Linked DNA regions of Homo sapiens. The protein of the gene in region 2 purifies or fractionates together with the protein of the main gene of each other region. This does not show direct contact. Each region holds a gene or a part of one and is shown on either strand. Other genes may lie near its edges. The genes, in order: LBR, TMEM33 and ABCC1.

The links.
Region 1: the proteins of TMEM33 (region 2) and LBR purify together in Homo sapiens (affinity purification with western blotting, with the first as the bait; one study listed by BioGRID). This does not show direct contact.
Region 3: the proteins of TMEM33 (region 2) and ABCC1 fractionate together in Homo sapiens (co-fractionation; one large-scale study listed by BioGRID). This does not show direct contact.

Annotation. Positions count from the first base shown.
Region 1 is NC_000001.11:225,403,905-225,407,556, forward strand, and holds part of LBR (delta(14)-sterol reductase LBR), read right to left. Parts: intron 2,929-3,652; coding exon 2,760-2,928; intron 803-2,759; coding exon 722-802; intron 623-721; coding exon 500-622; intron 1-499. UniProt on the Homo sapiens protein: Catalyzes the reduction of the C14-unsaturated bond of lanosterol, as part of the metabolic pathway leading to cholesterol biosynthesis.
Region 2 is NC_000004.12:41,952,277-41,955,928, reverse strand, and holds part of TMEM33 (transmembrane protein 33), read right to left. Parts: intron 1,860-3,652; coding exon 1,730-1,859; 3' UTR 1-1,729. UniProt on the Homo sapiens protein: Acts as a regulator of the tubular endoplasmic reticulum (ER) network by modulating intracellular calcium homeostasis. Mechanistically, stimulates PKD2 calcium-dependent activity. Suppresses the RTN3/4-induced formation of the ER tubules.
Region 3 is NC_000016.10:15,948,008-15,951,759, reverse strand, and holds the start of ABCC1 (multidrug resistance-associated protein 1), read right to left. Parts: upstream 2,145-3,752; 5' UTR 2,009-2,144; coding exon 1,961-2,008; intron 1-1,960.

The DNA.
Region 1 (3,652 bases), on a different chromosome or scaffold from region 2:
GCTCCCCCAGTTCCCCCAGCTCCCCTGGCTCCACCAGTACCTCCAGCTCCCCCTGACACCCCAGCTCCCCAAGCACCTCCAGCTCCCACAGCTCTCCCTGCTCCCCTGCTTTCCCAGCTCCCCACGAGGCCAGACACACAAAAAGAAAAACAGAATCTCTTTCTCTTCTTAAAAACCAAAGTTTTTCCCAATCTATGTACACTGAATCATGAATTAAGAAGCTGAATTAATTTCTATATATTCTACTTAGAAAAAAGCTATCAGGCACAGCTGAAAACTTAAAATAGTGCTTTTAGGCTTAAAGTAAAACTTCAGGCTCTGTGAATTCCCAATTCCCCTCAGAAGCCAGAGGAGCTTCTACAGAGGCCAACCTCACAGTAGAAAAGGGCGACAAAAAGACTCACACCCACCTTGGCCACACTGTCCCACACAAAGGACACACACACACATCTTTCTGGCGGCTAAAAGGGTCAAACTAGCACTCTTCTGAAATGCTTACCACATGGGAGGGACCACGCCAAGGCCATGATGAGATCACCCAAGTAATTGGGGTGGCGAACAAAGCCCCACCATCCAGAAACTAGAAGATTTTTTCCCGTTGAAGTATGAATGGTTTTTAAATCTATATAAAAATAAAAGTACATTTTTAATGATGTCGAGACAAAAAGAAAAATAAAACCTTCATGTAATATATATAATATAAACATAAATCAATACTTACGTGCAAGCTTTGGATCACTGGGATTTTTCCGGAATGCATTTTTCTGAGAATTTGCACCTCGGAAGATTACATAACCACAAACTGCAATTTTAAAATATTTTCCTATGTTAATAACTTAGTTATACTCTAATGCTTAATAGCATCTGTAATTTCTCTTAAAAATGATTTCTATGCTCTGAGGAAATTTCCAAAGCAGACTCCTAGGCTCAAGAGATCCTCCTGCTTCAGCCTCCCAAAGTGCTGGGATTACAGGCATGAGCCACCGCACCTGGCCTGATTCTTAAGAACAACTCAAAACCTCTAAATCCCACTATGTAAAAAGATGGTAACCCGTCCGAAATCTATCACACTACTTTAATCATCCACCTAGGAAACGCTCTGAAGGCAAAACAAATATAGTTACATCCATGAAAGAGATAAAATCTAAGATAGCCTACATTACAATAAAATCAATACTAGAGTTCAGTGTAATCAAAATTACAAGCTATATCATCTGTTAGTTATACCTACTGGCCATGGCACAAACATTTTATTATCAAACACTAGCTTAGAATCAGCACCAAAACATCCTGCACTTTAAATACATGCTGAATCCCACTTTAAGTCTATAAGTTCCTAATTTTATCCAAATTTCAGAATGTCAAAAATCAATCTATCACTGACATTTAACTATTATATAGTCGATCCTCAATAAACTAGTAAGAGAATAACTTTACTTCCTGCTTTGGTTTGAATGTGTTCTCCAAAGTTCACGTGTTGGAAACGTAATCCTCAATGCAACAGTGTGGAGAGGTAGCACCTTTAAGAGATGATTAGGTCATGAGGGTTCTGCCCTCATGGACAGATTAATGTGGCTATCACAGGAGTGGGCTCAGTATCTCGAGTGGGTTTGTTATAAAAGTATGTTCAGCCCCTCTTGCTCTTCCTCACTCTCTCTTGCCCTCCCTCACTCTCTCTTGTCCTTCCACCTTCCACCCTGGGATGCTGCAGCAGAAGGGGTCTTGCCAGATTCCAGCACCATGCTCTTTGACTTCCTGGCCTCCAGAACCATGAGCCAAATAAATTTCATGACAAATTACCTAGTCTCAGCTATTCTGTTCGAGCAGCACAAAACAAACTAAGACATTCCCCATTTTTAGCTGAACTATAAAATACACTGTCTTGAATAATAAAATGGATGACATGGACATCCAAACCACTGGTGAAACTAAATCTTAATTTTAACCAATGGTTTGAACTTCTTCTACCACAGATACTAACTTGTGTAGCAAAACTATCTGTATTTGCAGTTCACTGCTAATTTTCCCTGCCCAACCTCTAGTATAAGTGTTTAGTGAACAGTGTAAGAACAATGAAAATTCATCCTGAAGTAAAATCCATGACTGACCCTGGTGGACCGCAGCTGCAGCCAAACTGGACTTCTCAGTCTTTCCCAACCTCATCTCACACTTCCCCACCACACACCCTTGCTGAGCTGTTCCCAGTGCCTGACTTTTCGATCTCCCCATCCCATTTTCCCCTCTAAAACTCCAATCGAACACCATATCCTCCGATAAGTTCACACTAACGCTCCCCAGAGAGAAGTTCTCTCTATCTTTAACACCCGTCATCTAAGCCCCTCTTAGTGCTCACTCACACACCTCACAGCAAGGCAGGAATGTCTTATTTCTCCTGTTAGAATGTGAGCTCTATGAAGGCAAGACAAATCTTCTTACTTTATAAGATGCCTACCAGAAAAAGCAGGCACTCAAGAGAAAAGACGTATGGTTACCAAAACGAATTAAAACAACTTAAATTTATTAAATTTAAAAGCAAGATGGTTTAAAATAATCTGTTTCAAGTACTACTGAGAACCCAAGTACGAACCATCCATTCTCTTTGCAAAATGCAGATTTTTTATTACTCATGATAAATGGCTTCAAACTGAGCTAATGCTGGCCATTCAAAATGGCATGTTTCAAGTATGTAGACAGCAGGGCATAAAAGCCTCAGTACATAATATTTAATAAATTAAACTGAGACTAAAATTAATACTCACGTTTCAGAACAATAATTAGAGAAGCCATTGGCCAAGACACTTCATTTGGATGACTGACTAAATAAAAGGCTTGGAAGCTGTAAATAAAGGGAACCCACACCAAGTCTCCAAAAGCCAGCATGAATCCAAATCCATCGTGGATGATGTCCATGGTCGTCAACAACGCTTCCTATAAGGATACAGACGGGGAAAGGGAGAAGGAGCTTCTGTGTTTAAAGTATTCAAATAAAGTACTAGTTTACAGGCAAATGTAAAAAGTGCTATGGGCGGGTCCACAATCAACATTTTTTTGTTAAAGGGGAGAGAGATCTGGTTCCCCTGGCCTGCTAGGTCTTTCTGCTGTCACATTCTCCCGTCACGCCAGCCTCTCGCTCATGCTCTGGAGATAACAGATCTCTAAAGCATCTCCCATGCCCCCATGCCCAGGCCCTCCCCTCTGCTGACAACCCCTCCTCCAACCTCCACATAGGCCCTACACCCTCTGCTGCCCTCCTGACCTGCTGCTCAGACCTGGGCACTTCTCAGATATCACCACCCACCAGTAGGCTGCAGTAATTGGGTTACTGTACTTGTCTAGTCACTCTTCACTACACTAAAAGCCTCTAAAAGACAGAGGCTGTGTGTTTTCACCTTTGCCACCCCAGTACCTAGCACAGTGCCCGCCATGGAGAGAAGTGTTCAAAATATGCTTGCTGAAGGAATAAGATCACCAACTCTTTTTGTTTCAATTCCACATGGACCAATCTAATTTCTGTTCATAATCTGGCATTTCATGTGCATTTTCCACAGAAGAAATTAAGCTGCCTGGCAACATGGTGAACTGACAGCTTCGCTTCTCATGTAAATTAATAAAAGTGCATTACTCCCTGGTGATTTGGTTAGCATGAGCCAGA
Region 2 (3,652 bases):
CTTTTTAAATTATAGGAAAAAACTAACAGCTTCAAAATAAACATGACTTCAGCTGCCAAAATTTCTTGATATAATTCAAGACTTCATTTTTTAAAACATAATTAGAAATCAACATTATGTTTACTTAACATTATAGTCATTTTATTGCTCTAGAAAGTTTAGTTTCTAAAACCATTGGATTACTTACATAGTGACAATAAGACTAGCCACATACACAAAATCAACTGTATGAGGCTGCTTCTCCAGCTTAGTGGACAAATATTACAAAAATACAAAAATAGCTGATTATAGTTAAGCTATCAAGTATAATTTTTCATGTATTTATCCTAAGAATATCCCCTTTTTATAGATAAGGAGATGAACAAAAATAAAACTAATGTTACTGATAAATTACTAATGAATGTATTTGAGAAATCCAAATTACATGCAGACAGAAACTGGTCACAAAAACCATTACATTTCTCTATACTAAAACTGTACAATGTTTTAAACATTTCCAATCATGCAACGGTAATGAAGATCAGCATGAATTTTATAAGAGTTGATGGGAGTTCAATGAACAGGATTTAACACATTTTACAACCCAAATCAAAGTTGAATAATACATCCAATTCCCCTAAATTTATCTATGCGTTGAGACTGAAATGCACATTATTCCCCCACAACTCCTCCCCCTACCCCATTCCCAATCAATTACCTTACCTATAAAACCTTCCATTTAACCTTTTAAGTCAGATTTGATGGGTAAACATGTAATCTACAGTATACTCTCCATTATTATTTCAGGATAGACACACATATAGTCAGATGCTGAATCTTCATTACATTCCTTTCAAAAGGCATCTAAACTGTTGCAATTGTCTATGAAAATTCAAGCCTAAGAAACCAAGAAAACTGGCAGTCAAGATTCTGAACTAGGTAGTTCTACAAACTATAATACGAATAATCTATATGTCCACATTAGTAAAAGAAGGATTTCCTGTTTGAGAAATGTTTCTCAATGGCTCTTTGAAGGGAAAGCTGTGTCACTACTGCTTTCTGCTTTCAATGGCTAGGTGACCCCAAATATTTATCCAACTGGCTAAGAGGCTTACAGTTGAGCCTTTTAAAAAATACTCAAGGCCACAGAAGTACTTACGGAAATAAAATTTTAGAAGATCATAGTTTAAGATACATAGAATTCTTCTTATAATGGTACATTCAAAACACATCTGTCCTAACAAAGCAGCATAAAACCAATTAAAAAAACAATTTGAAATTAAATACACTGAGAAGTGTTAAAATCATTAACCAAAATTACTGAATGGTAGAATACTGTCTCAAAATGTACTGAATTCACATATGTGTATCACCATAATGAATTCATGCCAGATATAAACTCAGGTTACCAATTAGGTTGAAACAAATTTTAGAGCTATTTTTTTTACATGAGAAATTAATGTACTTCATGATATAGGCACAACAGCATCTTTTTAAAAAAACTGGTATATTTATCACTAGATACAGACTTCTTTAACCATTAGCAACACAGCGCAGTAAAATTTTCTCAAAACTTTTTAAGCTTGATTTAACATGCCAAGAAAATGATTATTTTTCCACCGAGATGCATTTATGTAAATTATGTAAATTGGATTGAGGTCAGTGTAACACCTGGAATTTACAACCCCTAGCAGAAGTACCAGCTGCTAATAATGCTTATACTATATTTGTAGCTTAACTAGATGTTAAACTATGGAACTGTTGGTGCCAATCTGCTTATAAAGGCAATGCTCTGGAGACAAAGTCTTCTCACAAACAGTGGGCAAGCAGGTTTCATTATTATGTGTTCAACAACAATCCTCAGTTCATTAAATAAGGTCCTGCAAGACAAAATAGTTTTCTTTGAGAAACACAAGGAAAAAGCAATACACAGGCTTACCTCATTTTATTGTACTCCATAGATATTTCATTTTTTACAAATTGAAGGTTTGTTGCAACACCGCATACAGCAAGACTATCAGTGCCACTTTCCAACAGCATGTGCTCACTTCATGTCTCTGCGTCACACTTTGCCAATTCTTCCACTATTTCAAATGTTTTCATTATTAATCTATTATGGTGATCTGTGATCTGTTCTGTTACGGTGATCTCTTTGGTGTTACTATTGTAACTGTTTTGGGGCACCACAAACTGCACAAATATAAGATGAAGCAGTTCATGAAGGCCATTCCTGATTGGTCTCTTTCCCTCTCCTCAGACCTACCTATTCTTTGAGACACAATACTGAAATTAGGCCAATTAATAACCCTGTAATGGCCTCTAAGTGCTCAGGTGAAAGGAGGCCTCCCATGTCTGTTACTTTAGATGAAAACTAGAAATGATTAAGCTTAGTGAAAAAAGCATGGCTAAAGCTAAGACAGGCCAAAAGCTAGACCTCTTGTGCCAAATAGCCAAGCTGTGAATGCAAAGGAAAAGTTCCTGAAGAAAATTAAAAGCCCATTTCTGTGAACGGATGAATGATAAGAAAGCAGAACAGCCTTACTGCTGATGGTAATGCTATTGCGCACTTAGCAGACTACAGTAGAGTGTAAACATAACTTCTGTATGCACTGGAAAACCAAAAAATTCATCTGACAGCTTTGTGATATTCACTTTATTGTGGTAGTCTGGAACCACTCCCACAACATTTCTGAAGTATGCCTCTAATGCTAAACAAATACTCATGAAGGAATCTACCATAGCCATTAGAATTTGAAGTAAAAGAATAACTAGAATGCATTGTAGAGAAAACACAAAATACAATGAAATTCTCAAACAACACCTACATCTTTTATGGGTGGAAACACTCATTTAACAAAGGTATTTAATAAATGGCTATCTCTAAAACCTCAGATTAAATTTTAAAAATTATATATATATATTTTAGAGTCACATCATTTTCACATTTAACTTAGGCAATTTCAACTAGTTTTTTAAAACAGAACAAGAAAAAATATACTACATGGACAGTGTTTTTTATATATTTTAAAATATATAACATGGACAGTTATATTTATTCACCCACTATTTCCTTAAATGTACATATTGTCCCTCAGAGATTTCCTCTTCTGTAAAATAATTCTGAGTTGTGGTGAAATTTAAATGCAATATGGAAGATGCTCAATAAATGTTACTTCCCAGTTGGATCAATACACTGAACTATGACTCTTTTATGCCTTCCGACTAAAGCCCAAGTACTCGGTGTCACACCCAATACCCTCCACAATCTAGTCTCAATCTAATTTTCTGCCCCATCTCCTGCCACTCCCTGCCCTCGCTCCTATCATCAACTTATGTTGCATGTTTGTGCCCAAAACCATGTGGGCTTTGCCTATGTCTTAACTGTGCTCACTGCCTACAAAGTATTATTACATACTGTAGATATCACATATATTATACAGGCTAGTATACACAAAATCATGTATACTGTACTGACATTTATAAGTGATATGAAGGATCATCAAGGGTAATTTTAACCATTCACAATTTTCACCTTATGTGCTGACTCATCCTGTATAAAGATGCAACTACTATTCTACCTTTTTGTGTCCTGTTTTACTTCTATGGTTAGAAAAAAAGCAACAAATCTACTTTTCTAAACAAGTATTTAATATGCTTGCACAGAAAGACAGGA
Region 3 (3,752 bases), on a different chromosome or scaffold from region 2:
TGAGATCGTGCCACTGCACTCCAGCCTGGGTGACAGAGCAAGACTCTGTCTCAAAAAAGAAAAAGAAAAAAAAAAGAAAAGAAAAAAGCAACAACTACCTACTTTCTAGCTTTCAGTTAATTATATTTCAATTTTCCCACTCAGGCCCCAGTTGCCTCCTCTCAAATTCTGGTTCCAAGGCACCTCCAACAAGTCTTGGAATCCAGACAGCAGAAATACGCAAGGTCAAACACGGGGATGGGGTACCTACCAGAGGCAGAGATCAGCTACAATTACCCCCAAGCAAAACCCAACCACCTGGCAATTTCTGTGGCAGAAAGTCCTTAACGAAGGAAAAAATAAAAAGAAAAAAGAAAATAAAAATTTTAAAAAATATTACAACTGGACTTCGTGAATGAGTTTCTTAAGATAAACAAAGCGCACCCCAAACATACTCATTAGCCATCAACTACCAATTGCCATCAATAAAATACGTCCTGATACAAAACCTCATGGATGTTCACCCTGTTTTGCCCCCTCCTCAATTCAGAAGAAAATAAACAAGAGAATATTCTGGAATTCACAGCAACACAAACCCAGATCACCATGTGAATCTTTGCAAAAAATAATCTTGCTGTTACTACACCTGGCAACAAGGAAGCCACAGGTTTTCCCCTGCTAAAGAAAGTCCATCTGCAAAGAGGCTCCAATCACCCCCAGACCCTCAAGGCAAAGTCTGTGTTCTATTTCCACCCCTGGGGTTACTCTCCAACCCCACTGGCTTAAAATGGGAGATATATCAAAGTGTGGTAGGTTATTAAACACAATGATACCCTACTAAAAAAAACAAACAAACAAAACCAAACCCTCCAATGGGGCCCTGGAGGATGACTTTTCAACACTCCAAATGCAACCCTCGAGGAAAGGCCGGCAAAACAGGACAAGAAAGTATTTTTGGAAGCTGATCACCAGCTCCTAAGAACCAAGGCTGTTTCTCCTGATTCCTAAACAAAAGAGGAGAGAGAAACAGTCGTGTCCAGATTTGCCTACTGCGTTCACCAACAATCAAGACAGCACGAGACAGAAGTGCCTGCCTTCCTGGAACAAAGAGGCAAATCGCATTACGGAGAAGCTGAAGCCCAAAAGACTGGGGCTTAAACCACAGCAAGTGGACTCCAGACACCCAGTCAGGCTCCGCAGGCCACGTTACAGAAGAAAACTTGCCGGGGTTAAATCTAAGGGGCATCCCCAGAGAGGAGCTCCACGTGTTGCAGGGAAGGGAGGGCAGGACCACAGCTACCAGGGTCCTGGGCGTCCTCAGCTGCACCCCAAGTCTGCCCCGAGCCGAGGGTCAGGTAGGGCACATCAAGGGTGGACATCCCCCTTCTTCCCTGGTTCCCCCAAACTTCCCCCGCAGTATCTAAGTAGAAAGAACAAAAAAAACAAAGCTAGGTAACCACAGAAGAGTAATGTGGCTTGTACGACAACTTTGGGGAGACAATGAAAGTCCCTTTCTACAATCTAAGCCCCTCCCCAGCTCACCCCGTTGGTCACGGAGTATTTTTCGTGAAAAGGGGGGACCCTAACCACAAAAAAGATGGGAAAACAGAAGCAGAGAGACACCCCTCTTCCCGCCCCCCATCTCTAGCGTCCCCTTCCCTGGAAGGTTGTTTTTACAGACGGGAACCCCAAAACAGGAAGGCCTCCTCACGGCGGCTCTGACCCGACCCGACCCTCCAAAACCCCAGGGCTGGGCACGCGGCCCCCCACGCTCTGCTCCGCAGGAACTGAGTCACCCAAGTTTCCCCCATGCCTTGCACCCCCGAAAGGGGCTGGGCCGCGGGCGACGTGAGGGTCCCGGGCCCCCGAGGCCGGCAGCAGAGCGGGGAGCGGGGTGCCCCGGGCGGCTGCGGGCCCGGTGCTTTCCCTCCCCGCCGGCCTCCCTCCGTCCCGCCGGCCTCACGCGGCCCCCGGCACGTACCCAGAGCGGGTCGGAGCCATCGGCGCTGCAGAAGCCCCGGAGCGCCATGCCGGTGGCGCGGGCGGCGGCGGGCACCGGGCGGCGGGTGATCGGGCCCGGTTGCTGGCGCGGGCGGCGGCGGGCACCGGGCGGCGGGTGATCGGGCCCGGCTGCTGGCGCTAGCGCTGGCGGCGGCGGCGGCGGCGGCGCAGGGAGCCGGGGCCGGGGCCGCAACGCCGCCTGGTTGGCCCGCGCGTCACGGGGATGCGGCGGCCCCGCCCCACCCCGCCCCGCCCCGGCGCCCGCTCACCTCGCGCGTCTCGGCGTGGGCAGCCGGACCAGCCACCTCTCGGCGCCCCGGGCCTGGACCCCGCGCCACCCCCACCCCAGATCCTCCAAGGCTTAGGCCCACCCGCTCGCGGACGGGCCTGGGGAGCGTTGGCTCGCCTTCCGGAAGCGCCTGGGATCTTTGGGGCCACACACCCTGCGACCACTTTTCAAATGCTGTTTAAGGACAGTATCCGTCACCAGGGGAAAATAACGTGAACGGAGCCCCCTACCTGCCTGGAGTGTACCGGGCGCCTTAACTGTGCCCTCATTTCATCCTGTAAAGTCTCCACGTTCATGAAGGAAGAAACCCAGGTGCAGAGAGGTTGAGTGATTCCCTCTGCCCAGGGTCACCTGGCTAATCACTTGCAGGGCTGGGATTTGAACCCGGTCCGCTGACTCCAAAGCTGAGTCACACAGAAGGAGGTGAATACTGTTATTCACCTACCTTTTACAGATGGGGAAACTGAGGTTCAGAAAGGCGAAGTGACTTGCCCGAGGTCACACAGTTAATAAGGAGTGAAAGTGGAAGTGAGATTCAAACCCGTGAGCAGCCTGATTCCGGAGCACTGATGACCCAGACGGCGCCAGTCTCCATCACTAACAGCTGTTGACCTCACCTGTGTGCAGAGCGCCTTTGCTTCTTCTCAACCTCTTTAAGCATCACTTAGAAATAACCAGGTTATTGATCCTCACCTCAGAGGTAAGGAAACTGAAGCCTGGAGACATGATAATCGTAGGCCAGGCATGGTGGCTCGTGCTTGTAATCAAGCACTTTGGGAAGCCGAGGCGGGCCGATCACATAAGGTCAGGAGTTCAAGACCAGCCTAGCCAACATAGCAAAACCCTGTCTCTACTAAAAACACAAAAATTAGCCGGGCATGGTGGCGGGCACCTGTAGTCCCAGCTACTTGAGAAGCTGAAACAGGAGAATCACTTGAACCTGGGAGGCGGAGGTTGAAATGAGCTTAGATCACACCACTGCACTCCAGCCTGGGCAACAGAGCAAGACTCTGTCTCAAAAAATAATAATAAAAAAAATTAATATGCATTCACAGTGACAAGGCTTCCTAAGGCTGTGTTCTTAGCAATTTACACAAATTAACTTGTGCAATCCTCACAACCCCATGAGGTAAGAAGTAGTATTATCCCCATTTTGCAGATGAGGCCACTAAGGCCCAGAAAGACAGAGTACATTGTCAGGGATTATTTAGATGGTAAGTGATTAAGCCAAACTTTGAACCCAAGAAGTCTGGCCAGGGAGGTGGGAAGTCTATAATACCATCCATTGCGCCATATTAGTTTTGAACTGTTTCATAGGCAGACAGGTAGAGACAGAGGAGCTAGGGCGAGGCCGCAGAGTGTAAATTTCACTGTGATACCAGCGATGCCTTTCTTTTCTCCTCTCCTCCTTAATCTCCTGCCTGATGTGGGTTTCCATAACACATGCACACAACAGCTGCACCAAATAAAACAGAAACAGTGT